Homo sapiens: one gene and its partners. The protein of the gene in region 3 purifies or fractionates together with the protein of the main gene of each other region. This does not show direct contact. Each region holds a gene or a part of one and is shown on either strand. Other genes may lie near its edges. The genes, in order: PRRC2B, DHRS11, CYREN, UTP11, XRCC4 and BDH2.

What was found.
Region 1: the proteins of CYREN (region 3) and PRRC2B purify together in Homo sapiens (affinity purification with mass spectrometry; one large-scale study listed by BioGRID and IntAct). This does not show direct contact.
Region 2: the proteins of CYREN (region 3) and DHRS11 purify together in Homo sapiens (affinity purification with mass spectrometry; one large-scale study listed by BioGRID and IntAct). This does not show direct contact.
Region 4: the proteins of CYREN (region 3) and UTP11 purify together in Homo sapiens (affinity purification with mass spectrometry; one large-scale study listed by BioGRID and IntAct). This does not show direct contact.
Region 5: the proteins of CYREN (region 3) and XRCC4 purify together in Homo sapiens (affinity purification with western blotting, with the first as the bait; one study listed by BioGRID). This does not show direct contact.
Region 6: the proteins of CYREN (region 3) and BDH2 purify together in Homo sapiens (affinity purification with mass spectrometry; one large-scale study listed by BioGRID and IntAct). This does not show direct contact.

What each region holds. Positions count from the first base shown.
Region 1 is NC_000009.12:131,481,086-131,484,585, forward strand, and holds part of PRRC2B (protein PRRC2B), read left to right. Parts: intron 1-640; coding exon 641-723; intron 724-1,285; coding exon 1,286-1,477; intron 1,478-1,624; coding exon 1,625-1,822; intron 1,823-2,273; coding exon 2,274-2,360; intron 2,361-3,500.
Region 2 is NC_000017.11:36,594,879-36,598,091, reverse strand, and holds part of DHRS11 (dehydrogenase/reductase SDR family member 11 precursor), read right to left. Parts: intron 3,122-3,213; coding exon 2,912-3,121; intron 2,906-2,911; exon of another isoform or gene 2,059-2,905; intron 1,262-2,058; exon of another isoform or gene 1,078-1,261; intron 1-1,077. UniProt on the Homo sapiens protein: Catalyzes the conversion of the 17-keto group of estrone, 4- and 5-androstenes and 5-alpha-androstanes into their 17-beta-hydroxyl metabolites and the conversion of the 3-keto group of 3-, 3,17- and 3,20- diketosteroids into their 3-hydroxyl metabolites.
Region 3 is NC_000007.14:135,167,908-135,172,207, forward strand, and holds the start of CYREN (cell cycle regulator of non-homologous end joining), read right to left. Parts: upstream 2,801-4,300; 5' UTR 2,745-2,800; exon of another isoform or gene 2,369-2,744; intron 1,568-2,368; exon of another isoform or gene 1,515-1,567; intron 1,154-1,514; 5' UTR 1,016-1,153; coding exon 879-1,015; coding exon of another isoform or gene 842-878; intron 1-841. UniProt on the Homo sapiens protein: Cell-cycle-specific regulator of classical non-homologous end joining (NHEJ) of DNA double-strand break (DSB) repair, which can act both as an activator or inhibitor of NHEJ, depending on the cell cycle phase.
Region 4 is NC_000001.11:38,015,734-38,019,233, reverse strand, and holds part of UTP11 (probable U3 small nucleolar RNA-associated protein 11), read right to left. Parts: intron 2,876-3,500; coding exon 2,814-2,875; intron 1,567-2,813; coding exon 1,464-1,566; intron 771-1,463; coding exon 657-770; intron 176-656; coding exon 82-175; intron 1-81. UniProt on the Homo sapiens protein: Part of the small subunit (SSU) processome, first precursor of the small eukaryotic ribosomal subunit.
Region 5 is NC_000005.10:83,346,547-83,350,046, reverse strand, and holds part of XRCC4 (DNA repair protein XRCC4), read right to left. Parts: intron 1-3,500.
Region 6 is NC_000004.12:103,082,835-103,086,334, forward strand, and holds part of BDH2 (dehydrogenase/reductase SDR family member 6), read right to left. Parts: exon of another isoform or gene 2,907-3,500; coding exon of another isoform or gene 2,865-2,906; exon of another isoform or gene 2,629-2,864; coding exon 2,515-2,628; intron 96-2,514; coding exon 37-95; intron 1-36. UniProt on the Homo sapiens protein: NAD(H)-dependent dehydrogenase/reductase with a preference for cyclic substrates. Catalyzes stereoselective conversion of 4-oxo-L-proline to cis-4-hydroxy-L-proline, likely a detoxification mechanism for ketoprolines.

The DNA of each region.
Region 1 (3,500 bases), on a different chromosome or scaffold from region 3:
GGTCAGGAGATCGAGACCATCCTGGCTAACATGGTGAAACCCCGTCGCTCCTAAAAATACAACAACAACAAAAAATTAGCCGGGCGTGGTGGCGGGCACCTATAGTCCCAGCTATTCGGGAGGCTGAGGCAGGAGAATGGCGTGAACCCGGGAGGCAGAGCTTGGCAGTGAGTGGAGATCGCGCCACTGCACTCCAGCCTGGGCGACAGAGCAAGACTCCGTCTCCAAAAAAAAAAAAAAAAAAAAAGAAAGATATATTTTTTAATGTAAAAAAAGAGAAGCTACCAACTTTTAGAAATAGTATAAGTGAAAAGAAGCATGAGCATAGCGGAAATAACGACAGAGAATCCAGATTGGCAGGAGTGAGGGCTCTGCCCTGCTCACTCTCTCCTGTAATCCATGAGATGTTGAGAAACACGTTGGGTGAGGATGTGGAAAGTTGGGTAAGGCTGTCAGACCAGCTCTTCCACGTCAGAGCCGTTCACTGGGTGTCACGGGTAGGGGGCTGGGGTGGCGGGTGCAGGGGAGGCAGGGGAGTTGGATTTCTGCAAGCTGTGCCTGTGCTTGTTCTTTAAGAGCTCATAAACTCTCTAGACGGGTTGCTCTTTGATGCCCTGACTCTGTCTTCCTCCCCTGGCAGCTCTCCCTGTGCAGGCCCCAGCCAACGACTCCTGGAGGAAAGCTGTCACTGCCTTCAGCAGCACCGAGACTGGCTCTGCGGAGGTGAGTGTGGCCGCTGCCCACATGCTGCCCCTGGGATGAGTGTGTGAGTGTGTGCTCACCATCCACACGGCCAGCTTGCTGTGGCCCACCCAAGCCCCTGCCACAGCAGCTGAGCTTGGAATTAGGTTGTTTCCATGGGGCCAAGCTCATCAGTGGTTTTCCATCTTGATTTCTGGCCTGTGCATGGGGCGTGCATGAGCAGGAGAAAGAGAAAAGGGGTAACAAGGGAGGACCCAACGCTGGGTGGGAAGAGGGATTCAGGGCCTCCTCTGAACTGGTGTCAGCAGCCACGTAGTCTGGTTTGGGTCACAAGTGAGATGGGTTTGGCAGCCTCGGTCTGGGGCCCATAGAAGATCCTGTGGTCACGAGCTCTATCGGGGTTGGTGTGTTTGGCCACACGTAAGTTGTCAGGCATCCTCAGCAGGGCAGGATCAAGATCAGGACCAGACTTGGCAAGGGACAGGCAGCTGGGGTAGAAAAGTCTCTGTGCCACATGCAGTTTTACTCTCTGGATAATCGAGTTGGGAGTTTGAGGCTATAACCCATTTTGTGCTCTGCACAGCAGGGTTTTAAGAGCAGCCAGGGAGATAGTGGCGTTGACTTGAGTGCCGAGTCTCGGGAGTCGTCTGCGACCTCCTCGCAGCGCAGCTCCCCATATGGGACTCTGAAGCCAGAGGAGATGAGCGGGCCCGGCCTGGCGGAACCCAAGGCCGACAGCCACAAGGAGCAGGCTCCAAAGCCATCTGAGCAGAAGGTAACCTGGACGTTCCAGTCACAGTGGCCAGGGCCTGGGTGGAAGGGGCCATCGTCTCATCATCTTCCTCAATTCCTGGGACAGTAGAAGCTAGAGAGTGTGGTCATTCCAGTCTGTGTGTCTCCACCTCTCTGCTTTTTTATCAAGGATTCAGAACAAGGCTCTGGACAGAGCAAGGAGCACAGACCAGGACCCATCGGCAACGAGCGTTCTCTGAAAAACAGAAAGGGCTCGGAGGGGGCCGAGCGGCTGCAAGGGGCTGTCGTCCCGCCTGTTAACGGGGTGGAGATTCACGTGGACTCCGTGCTGCCTGTGCCACCCATTGAATTTGGAGTCAGTCCAAAAGTGAGGCTTTGATTTGTTTTCTTGCTTGCTTTTTTTACTTTTTATTTTGGTACTTGGAGAGGCTGGGGGCTCAGATGGGATTGTCTCCTAGAAGGAATAGAAGGATGGGAGCCAAGCAGTCTTCCAGCGGCTAGAGTGTTGGTGTGGAGTCCTGCACATGGCCAGTGCTCTGTTGAGTTGCTTTAAAGATTGCTTCACTGACACCAGACAGGCCAGTGATCTTCCCTGTTTCTGTCAGGCCACCCAAGGGACAGGGAGAAAGAAGTGAGGCTGGCGTCCTGTCTCCTGTGCCGTGGGGAAAATCTGGCCATCTCGCTCATATGTGGCTCCAGTGAATGCTGCTCAGTGGAGTTTTTGAGTCGGGGAAACTGCATCACGTTAATGTATGCCTCTGGGGAATGTAGGGCCAGGAGGATCTCAGTGGGCTGTGTGGCCTTTTTTATTTTTTCAGGACTCCGATTTCAGCTTGCCACCTGGTTCTGCCTCTGGTCCTACTGGGAGTCCAGTTGTTAAACTTCAGGATGCCTTGGCCAGTAATGTAAGTCCACACTTCCACTTTTGGCTCCACTCACTGCTTGGGGCTGGCAGGCCCTGGGTGAAGGAGACAGCACATGTATTTCAGGCTGACCTGGGCTGGCACGTGACTCAGTTGCTAGCAGCTCCATGTCCTTAAAAGGTGCTTAAATGTTCCTGCCCAGGTTTTGTGACCTTCCAGTGGGGATCATACAGTTCCTAAGGGCTGGTTTATTTGGCTCTCTTTGGTTCCATTGTCTCCTCTGTGCCAGGTGCGAGCCCAGACTCAGGCTGCCTTTTCTGTGGCCAGGGGTAAGGGGCACAGATTGAGTAGGAGAGCCCTCCTCAGGAGGCCCCATCTCACCATCCAAGGGTCCCTGCCGCCTGCAATCTAACTGTTGTGATCCAGAAGACCTGCTGGCGCTCTACCATGGGCTCAGGAGCTGGCAGTTGCATCTGTTGTGGCCACTCGGGGCTGCAGCTGAGGCTGTCGCAGTGACATCTGGTTCACTGCTCTGTCCTCACCACCTGCAGGGGTGGGTGCTAGTGCATATGCTGAATGAACGAGTATCATTTGGGCAGCGTTTCCCAGAGGATTCCAAGGAATGTGAGTGCTGTACAATATTCATAGGTGTTGAATGAAAACAATGTTTTGGAAGTGCTGGGCTCTACGAGGTTCTTTACTCGAGAGTCTGCGGTCTCTGTCACATGCAGATGGACACCGGGGATCTGCAGGAAGCGGGGGCACTGTTGCATTTCCAGCCTCTGTTACCAGAGCCCTCTTTTTCAGTTTGCTGAGGGGCACAGCCTTCCCTGTCTGGCCCAGGGCATCTCCAGGCCAGGTGGCAGGTGCCTTCTGAACCAGATGTTTGTGTGCGGGCTGCCAGTCCATATTTATACTGCCGGGACATGGCTCTCCCTGTCTGGAGGGCACTATGGAGTGTGGATATGGGGGTGGCTCTCTGCAGACTTGTGTGGAGGAAACTGATGGAGGCAGCCATCTCCAGGAGATCAGTCATGGTCCTGGCTGCCATCAGTTTCATCTGGGTGGTCTTGGGTACATGTGGCCAATACTGAAGATGCATTTGGACAATTCATAGACACGGAGCTGTAGGTGCTTTTGGGAAAAGCCATGGATGGGTTTGGGCAAGTCATAGATACATTT
Region 2 (3,213 bases), on a different chromosome or scaffold from region 3:
CTAGGGGGGAAGGGGGCAGTGTGGCATTCCAAAACAGTGTCCAGGTCCCCCCGGAGACCAGCCACAGGCACAGAGCATCTTGTCTTCTACACGAGATGCCCCTCTCCCTAAAGCCGCAACCCCCAGTTGATAACAGAGGTAGCTCCTCACCTGGCTGACCCCCCAAGTTCCTGCAAACAAGAATGGAAACCCTTCAAACCCACTCCTGACCCAGGAGACTCTGTCTTGGCCATCTCCTCTATGAACAGTAGCACAGACCCTCTAATTCCATAGGGAATCATTTCCATTTCTTCCCCCAAATACCCTACTCTTCTCTTCTCTGTGACAGTCTCTGGCCCTGCTCCCTCCTAAACTGCTCAAAATCCTTACCAAAATGGCTTACAAATCTCTCTCCTCCGGCACACAGCCTAGCCTCTCCCTACCTTCCTCAGCTACTCTCTGCTCCTTCCCCATCCCCTCCCTTGAGATGAGTGGAGAAGAGAAGGCCTGACCCTCCTTTCTATGCCTTCCTTTAACGTGGGTTCCATCTACAAGACTAGGCACGGAGACTCTAGAGGGTCAGGTAACTTGCCACTCCTACTCCCTCTGGCAGAGGTGACCCCCACATCCCCACCCTTCAGGGAACAGAGGTCTGAAGGCGTGTCTGCTGTAAAGCGCCTACACTGCCCCACCCGTTGGCCCCACTCATTAGCCTCACCCGGAGGACAAGCAGAGATAAAGCTTTCAGCAGGTCCTCAGGCCTCTCCTCTTAAGAAGAGAGGGAACCAGCAGGAGATTAGATGTTTCTCTTAATCAGGTGGCAGAGCCTGCCATGAGGAACAGAACACCTTTGGTGTGAACCTGTCTTGGTGTTCATGGCAGTAGGAAGAGATGGGTGCCAGGACAGGGAGGTTTCCAGCCGTGTTTCTCATCTTCTTGGCAATGTGGGCTTGTGAGGCAGAGAACTCAGCCCCTGGCAGGTAGAGTGGGAGAAATAGATCCCCTGGGACCAGGTGAGTAAATCTCCCAGGTCTAGGGTATCAGGGGCAGGGAAAGAGAAGATGCCTCATAGGATGATCCTAATAGACTCAGATAATGTTCAAGCTGAAAGGAGCTGTAGGAATTTAATGTAAGTCCCTCATTTTACAGATGGGCGAGTTGAGGTCCAGGTTTAGAGACCCATGTGCTGTGGGTGAGGACCATGGCTCTGATCTCCAAGAAGGCTGAGGGCTTCATTTTCATGGCTTCATTTCCAGGCCCAAGCATCTGTGAGGTGCTAAGTCTACTGTCAGCAGATGGGAAAGGATTGTGGGGAGAAAAGAACACCCCATTCACACACTGCTTTCAACTTCTCAGGATACTTTTATACCCTACTATCACCCCATCATACCATCCAGAAGTTGAAAACCCATGTCCTGAAAGTTGGGTTTGGCCTGTGCACAGTTTCAAAACATTTTAAAAACCCTTCCAACATGTACTGGAAAGTTTCATTTATTCAATAACTATCTTTTCAGTGCTTATGGGATCAAGCCATACCAGAGAATAAAACAGATAAAATACTTGCCCTCATGGAGCTGTCATTTTAGTGAATGGGAGTGGGGGGGTGTCACATAAAATCAGACTCCCCACTTCTCTCAAAGAAATCATAAGATCAGCTGGGCGTGGTGGCTCACACCTGTAATCCCAGCACTCTGGGAGACCAAGGCAGGCGGATCACGAGGTTAGGCGATACAGACCATCCTGGCCAACATGATGAAACCCCATCTCTACTAAATACAAAAAAAATTAGCTGGGCATGGTGGTGCCCGCCTGTAGTCCCAGCTACTCAGGAGGCTGAGGCAGGAGAATAGCTTGAACCCAGAAGGCGGAGGTTGCAGTGAGCCAAGATCACGCCACTGCACTCCAGCCTGGTAACTACAGAGCAAGACTTCGCCTCAAAAAAAAAAAAAATTTCATCAAATCAGGCCACACTGGGCCCACACCACCATAGAGCAACTATGCAGGATTTGAGCAGTGGCTGTGTGCTTCCTCACACACCACAGACCCCTCCTAACCTCCCTCACTCCTTTATGTACCTACCTGGCCCCAGGGGACATTGGAGCTGTGACCCCAGATATTGATGATAGAGGTGTGTTCATCCCAATTAATTGTGACAAGACTGAAGCTCAAGGAAGGTAACCAACCTGCCTAAAGTCACATAGTTACTAGTGAGGCTAGGTAAGAATATCATCACTTGTCTCTCTCTTCCTTTTCTTCCCATAACATCACGTTCCCAAGCACCCAGGCACAGGACTGACAAGTGGGAAACATTCAACAGGCAGCAGTTCTCTCCCCTAACAATCTTTCTTCTAACACAAGGAAATCACTCTAGACTTTAAGAACTACCTTCAGGTCGGGCGTGGTGGCTCATGCCTGTAATCCCAGCACGTTGGGAGGCCAACATGGGCAGATCACCTGAGATCAGGAGTTTGAGACCAGCCTGGCCAACAAGGTGAAACCCTGTCTCTACTAAAAATACAAAAAAATTAGATGGGCATTGATGATGGGTGCCTGTAATTCCAGCTACTCAGGAGGCTCAAGCAGGAGAATCGTTTGAACCTGGGAAGCGGAAGTTGCAGTGAGCAGAGATCATGCCACTGCACTCCAGCCTGGGTGACAAAGCAAGACTCTATCTCAAAAAAAAAAAAAAAAAAAAAAAAAAAGAACTACCTCCAGGGGCTCAAAGAAGAGAAGAGCTGATATGGCCATTCATCCACTCTCTATCCCTCTGGTAGGGCAAGAAGCCAAGAGAGAGTCAAGATGCCCCAGGTGGGAACCCGAAGCTCCCTCTTCCTAGATGTCCCGTCCCCAGCAGCACTCTGGTTCACAAACCCCTGGCTCCCCTCTCTCCTCCCCACCCTCCACCTGGAAGATGGAGGCTTGGAGCTCTTACATTGAACATGTCCTTCCAACCACTGGTGCTGCCTGAGAGCAGGGTGTCAGGCCGGGCCAAGCCAGCATTGTTGATGCAGATGTCTACACCGCTGTGCTGAGAACGGATAGCTGAGAACATGGAGAGGATGTCCTCTTCATTTGATAGGTCACATCTGTAGGGGATCAAAGTCCCGGGGTAGCCTGCACTCTTACATTCAGCAGCCAGCTCCTATGAAACCCAACAGGGGTCTGACTGGGGTGAGCAGCTCACTCCCACGGCTCCCTAGCCAGCCTCAGACCCCGACCCCCGTCACACTCATA
Region 3 (4,300 bases):
CACGCAGGAGGTACCAGCACCTCTGAGCTGAGGAGCTTTCTGACACGGACACAATTTCCTCAGCCTTGCAGCCCAGTGACTGGCACAGGGCTTCATGGAGGCAACACCGGGGTGCCTCCCACCCTCCACCAACTGCCCTACAAGGATCTGGAAGTAGGGAAGGATGGCCGCCTCTGAAACACACACATGGATGCAAGAGGAAGGGAACCTCGGGCTGAGGCTGTACTGAGAGGAACCTGAAAGCAGGACCAGACTTAGGGAAAGACGGCAGCAGTCACAAGGGAAGGCTGTCAGTCAGGAAACCTTAGAGGAGGAGGAGCCAGAGAGGGAAACACCGAGTGCTGGGGCCCCGCCCACTTCACAGTGCAGCCTGGAGACTCACCACCCCCCCCCCGCCCCCCCCCGGCAATTACCGTCATTCAACTAACTCACTCCCCAGCTCCTTAGCTCTTGCTGGCCCTGCAGCTGCTGCTCATCTGTCCATCCCTAAAGGTCTGTCCACAGGGGCAGGCACCACTCAGAACAGACCCTTCCACTGATCTTGCCCATCTGATGTTACCATGTTTGTTGTAAAGGAAGAGACTGGCATTCTGGACAACTGGCATCAGAGACTGGCTGACATGGAGAACCCACTCTGTGTGTGCTGAGGGCAGGGCACTCACCAGTGCAGAGGCAGAAGTGGGTGCCTGTCCTCGAGGGTTAACCCGCTTTGCCTCCCGCCCACAGCCCCTCCACCTTCTAAAAGCTCAAGAGATGATCAGACTGAAACACCCGCCCATCTTGCTGTTCTGCCTAGGCTGGAAGACCTGGCCCAGGTCATGGAGGCCCCTGCTCCACTTGCCAGATTCGCAGGAGTCTTCTGACCAGAGCTGTCGCACCTTGCTGCTGCCACTGGCACTGCTGCCATTCTCATCCTCTTGGGGGCCTTCATTGGTGCCACATTCTTTGTAGCCACCTGGGCTGTCAGCCATGAGGGAAGGACCCTCGTTTTAGTCTCGGATTGTAAGGTTTCCATCTCTGTACCTTCTCACAAAGAAGAGTCAGGGCCCAAGCTTAATGACCTGTTTTTTAATTCAGGAAGGTAAATCTCGTTCTCTCGTCACACCCGGAATTACAGGTCCATTTGTCCTCAGTGGGAGTTGATCTTTGATTCCTACAAAGAACAATAAAGTCCGGTGAATTCCCATACCTCCAGTCATCAGGCACAGTTACTGGTCGGTGCAGGGCAGGCCAGAAGTGACCAAGGCCCAAGAGACTCAGACGGCCATTCACAGGCATCAGGCAGGTGTGATTGTGGGCAGGACAGCAGCTCAGGAGAGAGCCCTCTGACCTCCCCAAAGCTGGTGCCCCCTACAGGCAGCCAAAGCCAACCAGAGATACCTCCTGCAGCCTCTGTGCTGACTGACTCAGCACAGGAGGAACGGAAGGAGGCGGAGGCCCCTAATGTTCCTTCTCATTACCACCCCAAATGCCACTGTCCTCTGGGTGCCCAGCCCATTCAATCCCTAAAATACCTCTTAATGGCCTCTCCCTCATCTGGCCAACTCGATTTCTCTACTCTTCTATGGTGGCTCAGTTAAATGAAACTGAGGGCATTTTATTTCACAATAAAGTCTCATTGGCCAACACGCCGCCCTTAAGCTAAAGATACTTCTGATTGGTCAAACTTGAAGCAGCAATAGGGGCCCGGAGGCATTAACTGTGCCAGTCTGTAGATTCTGAAGCCCACGCCAGCCTCTGATCTAGTTTGGCCTCTCTTTTCCCTATCCCAATTGTTCTGCCTCCACTCAGCAGTCCTGGAGCTCAGTCCTCACCCAGAGAGATGGAGTTGTGACTCAGAGGGCCTAGGTCTCTACCTTCCACTTAGGAATCAAGCCAGAAGCTCCTGAAGCGGAGGTTTGCCCAAAAAAAAGAGTAGTCAGCGATAGTCCTCTCTGAATCATAATTTGATAATGCATTGCTCATCCAGATGGCTGTTTACAATTTAAGAAAAAATATTACCAGGCCCTCCTCCTAACCTGCCCGGCCATGGGGCACACCTTTGCCAATGCACCTTCATTTCTGTCAAAACTCAGTGATATTAGTGACTCCTACCCCCTAAGGCGCCTCCCAAGCGCAATGCTGCAGTCTGTGCGGACAAATTTAGTTCACCCTGGGGTGCCTATTAAGTACATTTCGCAAACGAGGAACTGAGACTTAGTTAACTTGCAGAAGATCACAGAAAAGTTTGAAATCAGCTGGTTGGATTCGCAGCCAGGTCCTGCAGACTCCAGACCCCGCGCCTCCCCGCCCTACTTCTGGGCCCCAAGAGCAGGCCGCGGCAACTTCCAGAAGCCGGGTCTCTGGGGCACCGCGCTCGCGGACCGACCTCAGTCCCATCCCAGCCGCTCCCTGCCTGGGCAGAATGGGGGCCCCGCGGGAACGCGATGTGCTGCCAGTTCACAGCCCGCCCTCCCTCTGCGGGCCGGTACCCGCCGCTGGCGGCGCCGACCTGTGGGAGGCCCAGAGGGCGGGTGAGTGCGGAGCGGAAGGCGCGGGCGAAGCACCGCAGGGGCCTCGCTGACCCCGCCACACGCCGGGCAGGGCTGCAACGGCTCCTTCCGACTGGAGCGGCCGCGCGCTCCTCCGGCCGGCTACTGGCTTCCCTGCTCTCAGGTTCCCGTCTCCGGCTCTCGTGCCCCTTCTTAGCTTCCAGAGCGGAGCCGGGAGGCAAATTCCAAGCGGTTGTGGGACCCACGCCTCACCCGGAACTTTAAGCCCTGCCGTCTCGCCTGGCGCCCAAACTCTGCGGACCTCCACTGGCCGCCCGCCTCTTCCGGCCCCGCGCGCTCCGGGGTCCCGCGGGCTCCCGGCCTCGGGACACTTCCGGTCTTGGGGAACTCCCGGCCCCCTCGCAGTCCCGGCGCCCGGGACACTTCCGGCTCCCGGCAGCTGCCTCAGTCGGAGGTCCGCGGGCGCCCCATGCTGGCAGTGGTAATGCCGCCGGCTGGCATCCGGTTGGCTGCGCGCTGGGAACGCCAGCGAGGCAGCGCCACCGGCTTGAGGAGGGTGAAAGTTCAATTCTTGGCCCCTGAAGTTAGCGGAAGGGAACGGGCATGTTTTGGAAAGGCCCGCCGGGAATTCCCTCAGAAACCAGGCGAAGCTCCCTGCTGGGCCAGGCCCCCCTCGTGTGCTTGAGGAGGATGGGAGCCCGGCCTCGGTTTGTTATCCTAATTAAGTGGAAAATTAAGAAAATAATAGAATAGCGTAAGTACTAATAGTAAAATTATAGTAAGAGAAATAACAATAGCTAGAATGGAATGAATTGCTGTATTAACCAAGGCTAGAAAGAATTTCAGCCCTCCGAAAGTTAAAGCGAGGGAAGAGAGAGACCCTCTCATATTGTTTTATACTCAGTACCTGTTTTTTTTTTTTTTTTTAAAAAAAAAAGGAAGTGAAATCAAAGACAGGCAGCCCAGCGCCAGGCCCAAAACTGGACCTGGGCCTGCCTGGCCTAAACCTAGTAGTTAAAAATCAACTCATGACTTAGAAACCGATGTTATTCATAGATTCCAGACATTCTATAGAAGAACATTGTGAAACTCCCTGCCCTGTTCTGTTTCTCCCTGACCATCGGTGCATGCAGCCCCTGTCACGTACCCCTTGCTTGCTCAAATCAATCACGACCCTTTCATGTGAAATTTTAGTGTTGTGAGCTCTTAAAAGCGACAGAAATTGTGCACTCGGGGAGCTCGGATTTTAAGGCAGTAGCTTGCCAATGCTCCCAGCTGAATAAAGCCCTTTCTTCTACAGCTCCGTGTCTGAGAGGTTTTGTCTGTGGCTTGTCCTGCTACAGTCCTTGGTTCCCTGACCAGGAAGCGAGGTGACTGACAAGCCCTGTGGAGCGTCCCTGCAGAGGACTCCGGCCAGCCTGACTGACGCAATCCAAAGAGCGCTCCCGGGTAGGAAATGGCCCCGGTGGAATGCCTTGCCAGAGCAGCGCATAGCAGGCTCCCGAGAAGGATTAACACTGGCTGAACACCGGGAAGGAACTGGCACTTGAAGTCCAGACATCTGAAGCTTGTCAAGACTAGTTTTTGGAACTTGCCCCACTCCATGTGAGTGGAAGCATGGCCTGATCACCCACGGTGTGCCTGTATTGACATCTTTGTTCTGGTTTTGACTTGGCTTGACTTGGTAAGACTAGTCTTTGGAACTTGCCCCACTCCACGTGAGTGGAAGCGTGGCCTGATCACCCACGGTGTGCCTGTATTGGCACTTTTGTTCTGGTTTTGACTTGGCTTGACTTGGTAAGACTAGT
Region 4 (3,500 bases), on a different chromosome or scaffold from region 3:
TTAAGGCACTGTCGGTTTCTAACACCAAATGACACAGACTGGCATGGTAGACTGTCCCAGAAACCTTCAAACATTTCATACCTTCCTTTTTGGTGTCAAAAAAGAACACATGCTTGTTCTGTTGCTTCCCCTGGAAATCCAGCAGATGGAGCTCTGATTTTAGTCTTTCGATTTTCTAGAACACAGAATATGGTCTCACTTTATATTAGATTCTTCTAGGGTACCAAAAAAAAAAAAAAACTGCAAAAGTTTAAACCATTTCACATCATTATTGCCAGCCAGCAAAGAACTTGCTTTATTCTTTTAAAGGAAAGGATCCCAACAAATATCAGGTATTGGGCTAGGCACTTCCCAAGACGCACTTAATCCCTGCAACAGTCGCCTGAGACAGAAATGAGGGAAGAGCCTCAGGGAGTTGAATTTGCCCATTGTCATGGGGCTAGTAATTTATGGCAGTGCCAGAACTCAAACCCTAGGTCTGTCTCATTCCCAAACCTGAACTCTTTCCACTCTACCATGCTAACTATACTTCTAAATCATTATTACAATCAAGTGAGATTGTAAATGCCAGAAGAAATTAATGAATAACTTGAGATTGATGAATTTAAGTTTCCCTTCTTAACCAATAAAACCAATCAGAACAAAGAGTGAATTACCTTAGCTTCTGCAACCCTCTTCATTTCTATATATTTGACGTCCTGAGTTCTCATCAGCTTTAGTTGTTCTGGGGTTACTTCTTCCTTAGTCTCCTTAATAATATGTACTCCATCCTAAAATCCAAATTTAAAAGATATATTCCCTATTAGATTAAAATCATTAATAAGTTGTTGGCACAGTGCACGGCTAGAACAAAGACAACCATAGGCCAAGTGCGGTCACTCACACCTGTAATCCCAGCACTTTGGGAGACCGAGATGGGCAGATCACTTGAGGTCAGGAGTTCAAGACCAGCCTGACCAACATGGTGAAACCCCGTCTCTACTAAAAATACAAAAACTTAGCCGGGCACAGTAGTGTGTGCCTGTAGTTCAGCTACTCGAGAGGCTGAGGCACGAGAATCACTTGAACCCGGGAGGCAGAGGTTGCAGGGAGCCGAGGTCGCACCACTGCACTCCAGCCTGGGCAACAGAGAGTGAGTCCATCTCAAAAAAAAAAACAAAAAGACAACCAAATGCTGTATGCTAACAGCAATCCTAGACACAGGCCCCTGAGGCGTACGTTCAATGTAGCACCTCCAGTCATCTGTCCTAGAACAGCTCCAGGTATAAGACAACCCAGATTCAAAGGTAAAAATGCACGCTCCTCTGGAAGTGGAGGGTTTGCCTTGGACACTGACCAAGAGCACCTGGAGTAACCAGAGAAGGGTTAAATTAAGGCCAACGATTCTTCCTCTCCATCTCCTCCCTGTCCTTATTTTCCAATGTGTGGAGCTCAAAACACCAACCAAGCCATTGGGCACCCACCTGGAGTTTAACCCGAGTCATTTTGTAGTAGAATTCATCTGGATTTTTTTCAAGAGCCTTCTTCCGAAGAGCTTTGAGGTATTCTTGTTTTTTACGGTAGTCACTAAAAGACAGGTTAAATGAGGTTCATAGCAAAAAAAAAAAAATAGATAATTTTAAAAAACCAAAAACCCACAATAAGCAAACTTTACAAGCATCTAAAAGGTCACACAGAGTGAAACTCAAAAAAGCCAAAAGCACTGACTGGATCTGGACACTCCACTGTCACTGAGCTGAGCTCATGTCTTCGCAGGGTCCACAGTCTAATCAACAGTTCCTATTCCAGTGGAACCTGAAATTAACTGTCCCCAGCCTATATATGTTTCAGTGCCATTTATATCATTACAGGGAGACACCAAACAAAGTACAAATTAAAACTCCTTAGGATATGGTGCAAGCTTGGGCACCAAATGACCATATGTAATTCAGAAACTACACAGTACAGTATAGCGCAATGACTAGAATCATGGACTCTGGAGCCAGACAGCATGGGTTCAAATCTGGACTTGACAACTTCTGGCTAAGTAACCTTGGATAAGTTATTTAACCATCCTGAATCCCAATTTCATTTGTAAAATGAATACGGTAATAGTAACCCATCCCAGAAGGTTGTTGGGAGGGACAAATCAGTGTAAAAACGGTAAATATCCTAGAACACTGCCTGGCCCAATAACAATACTTAATTATCATTAGCCTTAAAATCTCTGGGACCTACAGAAACCCATTTAATCCATCACCACCATCTAGACCAGGGGCATAAAAAGGACCTCAGCTGACATGTATCGCTAACAAATAATTAAGAAGTATTTTGCAAACAAAGTGCTAACAGAGAACAAGAATGGGGATAATTGTTTTATAAAATGTTTTCAGAGTTCATTATCACCCACGCTTGGTCTCATGAATCCATCTTTCACATCTCTTCATTCCACATCACACACATGGTGATGTAAGAGACTCAACAAATGGAATTTCAGATTATATCCTGCACTTCAAGAAAACAAAGAGAAAAAGATTCAACTTTGGGCTCAAACACCAAGGCAGAGCCAAATCAAAGCCACTATGAGAAAATGATCTGGAACAACATAATACAAATAATTCACAATGCAACTACAGTTAAATAAATAATGATCTGCCTAAACAAAGAGAGAAATTTAGGATCACAGAAAAAATTATCTGACAGGCTGCCAGAGCTTTGGCCATTTTATCAATGGCAGGAAATTATCCCCTGTTGGACACTCAGGCAATTCAGCTGCAGTGCAAGGAGGTTGTAAGCTTTCTTGGCAGCGCCTCTACCAGAAAGACTGAACTCACTCTGCACGAAGTTTGTAATCTTTCTTTTTCTCCAGCAGGCCCAGATGTTTTCGAAAGCCAGGCTAGAAGACAAAAGAAAGAACAACAGTGCTTAGTTTCCTCCGCAAACACATATCCAAATCAACACGACATCTAACAGGCACAGGAGTCTCTGGAGTGCTCAGTAAATCCAGTCCTTGGAGCTAACCCATGACCCTGTTCCCTCCCCTCCCCACAACTGGGCTCTGCCCAAGGATGAGAGGGACCCTGCCAGCACCAGACAGGTCACAAGCACTGCTGTAGTAGGTTTCTTGGCCTATTAAGGACAGAGAGAGGCAACAATGACTCGGCACTAAGCAAGCAGTTGCCAGTTGTACTAAAATTACTACCAACTTAATCCAAGGGTTTATAAAATACTACAAAGGGAAAACATAGTAACAGGGAGGCAACTGTGGTAAGGGAGCTAAATTTAGAGTCTGGAGATGTGGGTTCAAATCCAAGCTTTACCTCTGAACAATCTGTGACCTTGGGCATGTCACTTAACTTCTCTGAGCTGCTATTTCCTGACTGTAACATGAAAATAGTACCTGCTTCTCCGGGTTATACTGAGGATTCAAGGAGCTTCTATTAATGGTAATGCCTGCACATGGCTTGACACATAGCAGCTTTCCAGCATGAGTTTACTATTATTATTATACTTGTGGTACT
Region 5 (3,500 bases), on a different chromosome or scaffold from region 3:
CAGAGCAAATTAATGCAGGAACAGAACACCAAATACCTGTGTTCTCACTTATAAGTGAGAGCTAAACATTGGGTATACATGGACATAAAGATGGAAACAATAGACACTGGGGATTACTACATGGGGAAGGGAAGGAGGGGTCATGGGTTGAAAAACTACCTATTGGGTACTATGCTCAATACTTGGGTGATGAGATCCCTATCCTAAACCTCAGTATCATGCAATACACCCCTGTAACAAACCCGCACATGTACCCCCTGTATCTAAAATAAAAGCTGAAATCATATTTAAAAAGTCAGACATGGAAAGATCTCTGTAATTGTGTCCATTGTTTAGATACTGTGAACCAGAACACAGAGATCTATCAATTTTGTTTTAAAAAAATCAGCATATGACCAAAGGACCACTCTGAAGTGACCAGACTGAAGGATAAATAGATTCCTGGTGCTCCACTTATAATTTACATTTCCTTCTGATGTCATGAGGGGCTTAAGAAATAGATTTTGACCCCTGTTCATAGTGCCTAGTCATAACAGGTACTCAGTAAAAGTTGTCCCGAATGGAGATCATTGAGCTTTTATATCTATGGCAAGTCAATAGAGTAAATTTAGAACTCTCTCCACAACTCTTAAAAAAGTTTTATTATTTTTACAGGTAGTAAATGTTTATTGTTAGACTTTTTGTAAATTCTGAAAAGCATAAAAAAGAACACAAAAATGTTGATATGGTTTGGCTTTGTGTCCCCACCTGAATCTCTTTTTGAACTGTAATCCTCAATGTTGGAGGAGGGGCCTGTTGGGAGGTGATTGGATCACGGGGGTGGACTTCTCCCTTGCTATTCTTGTGATAGTATGTGTGTAACCAGAGAAGTGGGGCATTGCTATAAAGGTATCTGAAAATATAGAAGCAACTTTGGAACTGGGTAATAAGTAGAGGTTGGAACAGTTTGGAGGGGTTGGAAGAAGATAGGAAGATGAGGGAAAGTTTGGAACTTCCTAGAGACTTGTTAAATTGTTGTGACCAAAATGCTGATGGTGATATGGACAATAAAGTCCAGGCTGAGGTGGTCTCAGATGGAGATAAGGAAGTTATTGGGAACTGGAGTAGAGGTCACTCTTGCTATGCTTTTCTGGTGGAAGAAATTTCTAAGCAGCAAAGCATTCAAGGTGTGGCCTGCTGCTTCTAAAAGCCTACTCTCATCTGTATGAACAAAGAAATGACCTGAAATTGGAACTTATATTTAAAAGGAAAGCAGAATATTAAAGTTTGAAAATTTTGCAGCCTAGCCATATGGTAGAAAAGAAAAACCCATTTTCTGGGGAGGAATTCAAGGCTGCAGAAATTTGCGCAAGTAAACAGGAGCCAAATGTTAATAATCAAGACAGTGCCTCCAAGGCATTTCAGAGATCTTCATGGCAGCCCCTCCCATCACAGGCCAGGAGGCCTAGGAGGGCAGAATGGTTTTGTGGGCCAGCCCAAGGGCCCTGCTACACTGTGCAGTCTTGGGACATGGCACCCTGCATTGTGGCTGCTCCCGCTCCAGCTGTGGCTAAAAGGGGCCAACATGCAGCTTGGGCCATTGCTTCAGAGGGTGCAAGCCTCAAGCCTTGGTGTCTTCCATGTGGTGTTAAGCCTGCAGATGTGCAGAGTGCAAGAGCTGAGGCTTGAGAACCTCCACCTAGGTTTCAGTGGATGTATGGAAATGCATGGATGTCCAGGCAGAAGTCTGCTGCAGGGGTAGAGTCCTCTTGGAGAACCTCTACTAGGGCAGTGTGGATAGAAAGAAAATGTGTGGTTGGAGCCCTCAAAGGGACACTGCCTAATGGAACTGTGAGAAGACAGCCACCATCCTCCAGACCACAGAATGGCAGATCCATCATCAGCTTGCGCCATGCATCTGGAAAAGCTGCAGGCACTCAATACCAGCCTATGAAAGCAGCCATGGGGGCTGTACCCTGGAGAGCCACAGGGGCAGAGTTTCCCAAGGACTTAGGAGTCTACCCCTTGCATCACTGTGCCCTGGATGTGAGACATGGAGTCAAAGGAGATTATCTGGGAGCTTTTAGATTTAATGACTGCCATGCTGGTTTTCGGACTTGCATGGGGCCTGTAGCCCCTTTGTTTTAGCCAATTTCTCTCACTTAGAATAGGAGAACTTACCCAATGCTTGTAATCCCATTGTATCTTGGAAGAAACTAGCTTGGTTTTGATTTTATAGGCTCGTAGGTCGAAGAGACTTGCCTTGTCTCACATGAGACCTTGGACTTGAACTTTTGAGTTAACACTGGAATGAGTTAAGATTTTGGGGGACTCTTGGCAATGCATGATCATGTTTTGAAATGTGAGAAGGGGATGTGGGAGGGGCCAGGGATGGCATGATATGGTTTGGCTTTGTGTCTGCACCCAAATCTCATGTTGAAGTGTAATCCCCAATGTTGGAGGAGTGGCCTGGTGGGAAGTGACTGGATCATGGGGGCAGACATCCCCCTTGCTGTTCTCACGATAGTGTGTGAGTTCTCATGAGATCTCATTGTTTAAAAGTGTGTAGCACTTCCCCTTTTGCTCTCTCTCTCCTGCCAGTCATGTGAAGATGTGTCTGCTTCCCTTTTGCCTTCCACCATGATTGTAAGTTTCCTGAGGCCTCCCCAGCAGCATAAGCCTGCACACCCTACAGAACTGTGAGCCAATTAAACCTCTTTTCTTTATAAATTACCCAGTCTCAGACATGTCTTTATAGCAGTGTGAAAAAAGACGAATACAAATGTCTACTATCCTATTTTGCATTACTTGTACATTCACAGCCTTTTTTTTACAAAAATGTGATCATTCTACACATTTATAGTTTTGCAGCTTGATATTTTTACTCTATAATATATTAGAGATGTATTTTCATGTTGAAAAATTTAGATCTACATTCATCATTGATTTTAATTTTGATGTACTATTAGTTCACTGATAGAGGTTTGGGTTGGTTCAATTTTTAAATGCCCTTATAAACTAGACAATTAGTATCCTTATACATATATCTTAGCATATTTATCATATTTTTTTCATGAACATGCCTTCTCCAAGAAATCACGCTTAGAGGTATAATTTGAAGTAAACAACTCAGAGAACCTGTATCTAAAGTTTTAATGGAAAGTGAGAGAAACAAATAATTAGAAACTTGGGTGTTCTTAATGAAATTATAGCCATTAGTTACAGCTCTGTTTAAATTCTAAACCTTCCACAAGGACTTACTTTTTTTCCATGTTCCTATTTCATTTCATATTTGTAATTTTTATTTCCTCTGGTCATTTACAGTACCTAATATCTGTATCTTATACTTCAACATACAGTTTTGTTTATTTAATCAATACTGTACTTGTTGATTATACACTATGAACAGCTCACTGTGTTAGGAAAATAGAACAAATATAAGTGTTACTCCTGCTCTCAGAAAGCTTTAAGTTAAACATTTACTTTACCTAATGTTTTCAAGTGTGTCTTTTTATCTTAAA
Region 6 (3,500 bases), on a different chromosome or scaffold from region 3:
CAAAAGGTTTAAATACATTTTAAATGCTAGATGTACCTCTTCAGGATTTCCTCTGGCTTGTATTCTTTCTTGTAGAGATGGCGTATCAACTGTTCCTAAATCAAAGGGGGATATTCAGCTTGGTTACTCACTTTCACTGAAAAAGAAATCGATAACTAAACTTCCTTTCCATATGACAATCAGTGAGATTCTTCTCCTTGACTTAAAATGACAACTTTACAGCTGCCTGCCTGAGGCCTCTTATTTAATAGGCTTATAATTTCTTCAATAACATTTCTATGATTTTAAAAACACAGACTATGATTCTTCGTGACACTATGTAGGGACTCTGGATGAATCACCCAGCATTCTCAAGGACATATATTTTAGTCACATTGCATTTATATGATGCTTTATGGATTTTAAATACATTTATGCATATGATCTCAGCTAATCCTCACAATAACCCTGAGATGTAGATAAAATCGTACAAGCACTTTGCCAGCTTAAGGAGCCAGTTTGCCTCAATGATCTCAAAACCATTCTTTGCTGTCAAGTTCACTGTGGCATCTTTGGGGACAATCCCATGGCTACCATAGTCCTTGGTAATTCAGGTGGCGCTAAATTTTTCTTATCACCTTGCCTATTTTCATTGTTTCAAATGCCTACTTTTAACCACAGTTTCAAGTTTTTAATCAAAAATATAATTTAATCTAATTTAAAGTTATTTTACTTTAAAAAAGAAAAATAAGAACAACGCTAACATTTTAAAATTCCACTTAGTTTATGGTCTCCTAGAGCACGTTACCCAGACTTTTTTGTTAACGGACATAAACTGTTCATTCTCTTTAGAGGGCCCTTTTTCAGACTAAAGAGTACTCTGGCAAATAATGTGATCTTTCTGAGGTTGTAACAAATGGTTTTACAGTCATACTTCACCCTTAGATCATGTTCCTGAGAGTGCCATAGATTTGATCTTTATTCAGAAAACATTTCTTAATTTTAGCATCATTTGCTATTTTTTTCTGATGAAGCTGGAAATCTTCAAAATCAGAAAGCCTGACTCCATTTTGGAACCCCCTCTTTAGGTTGGTTATCTGTCTCTTGTCACATTTTACTATAAGCAGCCAGCACTTTCAAGACTCTGGGTAGAAATCACCTTAATTAGATCACCCAGTTCATTAGGAACATCTTCTACCTTCACACTACAGGCAACAGTGTTGATGTACTTTCTGAAACTGTATGACAAAGACACTCTTTTTTCTAATTTTCAATAATATTTTCCTCACTTTCCTCAATAGCCTCCTTAAAGTCCACAGTTTTACCAACAGTGTGCACCTCAAGCTTTCACTAACACTCCTTCAGAATCTTACAGCTTTAATAGCTTTCTCCCTCTGAGGTAAATGAACATCATATCTTACATATGACTGGTACTAATGGCTATTAAATAAGAACTGTAGAGCAAGCCCATGCCTTTAGAGTATTCCAATGTCACTGGGTTCAGCTGTGTCCATGGCACAGACATACTATGCCAGGGTCTACACAAGTCTGGCTGGAGATTTGTGACTATACAACCATCAGCAGCATCTCAGACATACTCAGTCCTCCTCAAGTTTTCTTCTGTGATTGGTTCACTGAGTCACAGCTAGTTCCTTGTTCCAAAGAGTTTGATAACATATTTTCCAATCTCCTGATAAGTCCAGTCGCTGAAACAACCACATTTTCCAAATCATTTTACCACTTATTCCACTGGGTAAATGGCACCAAGAATAGCTAGACTCAAGTATCGCCAGGATGTACATTAAAACCCAATGAAATGACCTCTCATGCATTCTTCTTTTTCTTAGCGTTACCTACGTTTACATTTCTGTTCCAAGAAAAATAAAACAGAACATCTCAATCGCTGAAATTCTGTAGCTTGGGGGATGTTTAGTTTCCCCTCTTTAAGTCAGTGGGTTTCAACTGAAGATTCAATCAGAATCTCTTGTGGGTCTTTCTAAACCACACAATTCTCTCCATGAACTCCTTCCCTAAATTCTGGCATGCCCTTCAGGTTTGAAAGGTCCCCAGGTCATATTGAAATGTTTCCCTTTCACACACCACCCCCCATTATCAATTGTGCACTACCAAGGGAAACCTTGATCCTGGATATGCAATCATTTCTTTTTAAAGAATATTATAATCCTTATTAGATACCTTAAGTTCCTTTTAGATTGGTAGAACCAGGTAAAAGTACATATCAATTTAATAAACACATCTACGGTTATTGTGAAAATGAGACACACCCCTATAGTTATTAAGAAAAGGAAAGTTCTGCTTTTCTTCTTTGCTTTGTATGAGGGATCGGCACACCTTTCTTGGTAAAGAGGCAGACAAAAAATATTTATGGCTTTGAGAGTCATTTTATCTGTTGCAACTATTATACTAAACTCTGCCTTTGTAGCATGAAAACAGCCATAGGCAATAACATAAGCAAATTGGGTGTGGAAGTGTTTCAGTAAAACTTTGCTTACAAAACAGGTGTGCCTTACTCACCTGGGCACACACAGTTGCACCTGATGCCCTGCTGGATGAAATCTGCAGCCACAGATTTTGTGAGGCCAATCACGGCTGCCTTGGTTGTGCTGTACACACATCTGTTCACAACTCCTGAGGGTGGAGGAAAGGTTCAACAATTGAAGGAATAAAAAATGTATTTTCCTTCAGAAAGGTAACACAAATAAGTTTTCCCAGTAGCCATTTTCATGCTTTCTCCCACATTCCTCCCCTTTTAAAAAGATTGATATCAGATTTTTTTCCTTCAATAGAGTCAGTTTCTGGATCTAGGGAAATAATATCAGTATAGGCACAACTTAATTGAGACTTAATTGAAATGCTGAACTTACTTAACATTGGTAGTCTTAGTTTCTCATCATCAGTTGCCATAACTCTTAGGCAGATTCCAAAAGAAAATGAAGATTAATAACAAAACAAAACAATAAAACAGGAGGCCTAGGCACTTCTTTACATTCCTCTCTTGTGTATGTTGAATATGTGTATCCTTGCAAAGAGAAGAAATGGTATCTCAGCAGTAACTATTTCATTTTAAACTCACAGATCCAACTATGCCAGATTGTGACATAATCCACATTTTGTACTGCTGTCCTTGTCCTTCAACTTGACTTCTTGCTGATGGCTCAGATCAACTGTCTTTGTGAAGCATTCCACAAACTCACAGGCAGTTATTTCCCTGTATTTTGACAGCGCTTTGTACAAACCTCTGTTATATATCATCACACTGGAGAAGATGATGTTTGCTGCCTTGCTCCTAGTTTTGGACTGTGAATTCTTTTATGGCCAGAGCACATACCGGTGCTCAATACACTATTTTAAATTAATTAAATGTTAAATGGTTCTTTCTCCCAGTTTGATGTTCATTTCCATGTCCATTAGAAAGAATAAAAGGGAGGGCAAAAATACCCCACATTTTAATTTAATTTTACCACTGGCTCACATCGAGAGCAAAAGATCTGTGGTTAAGG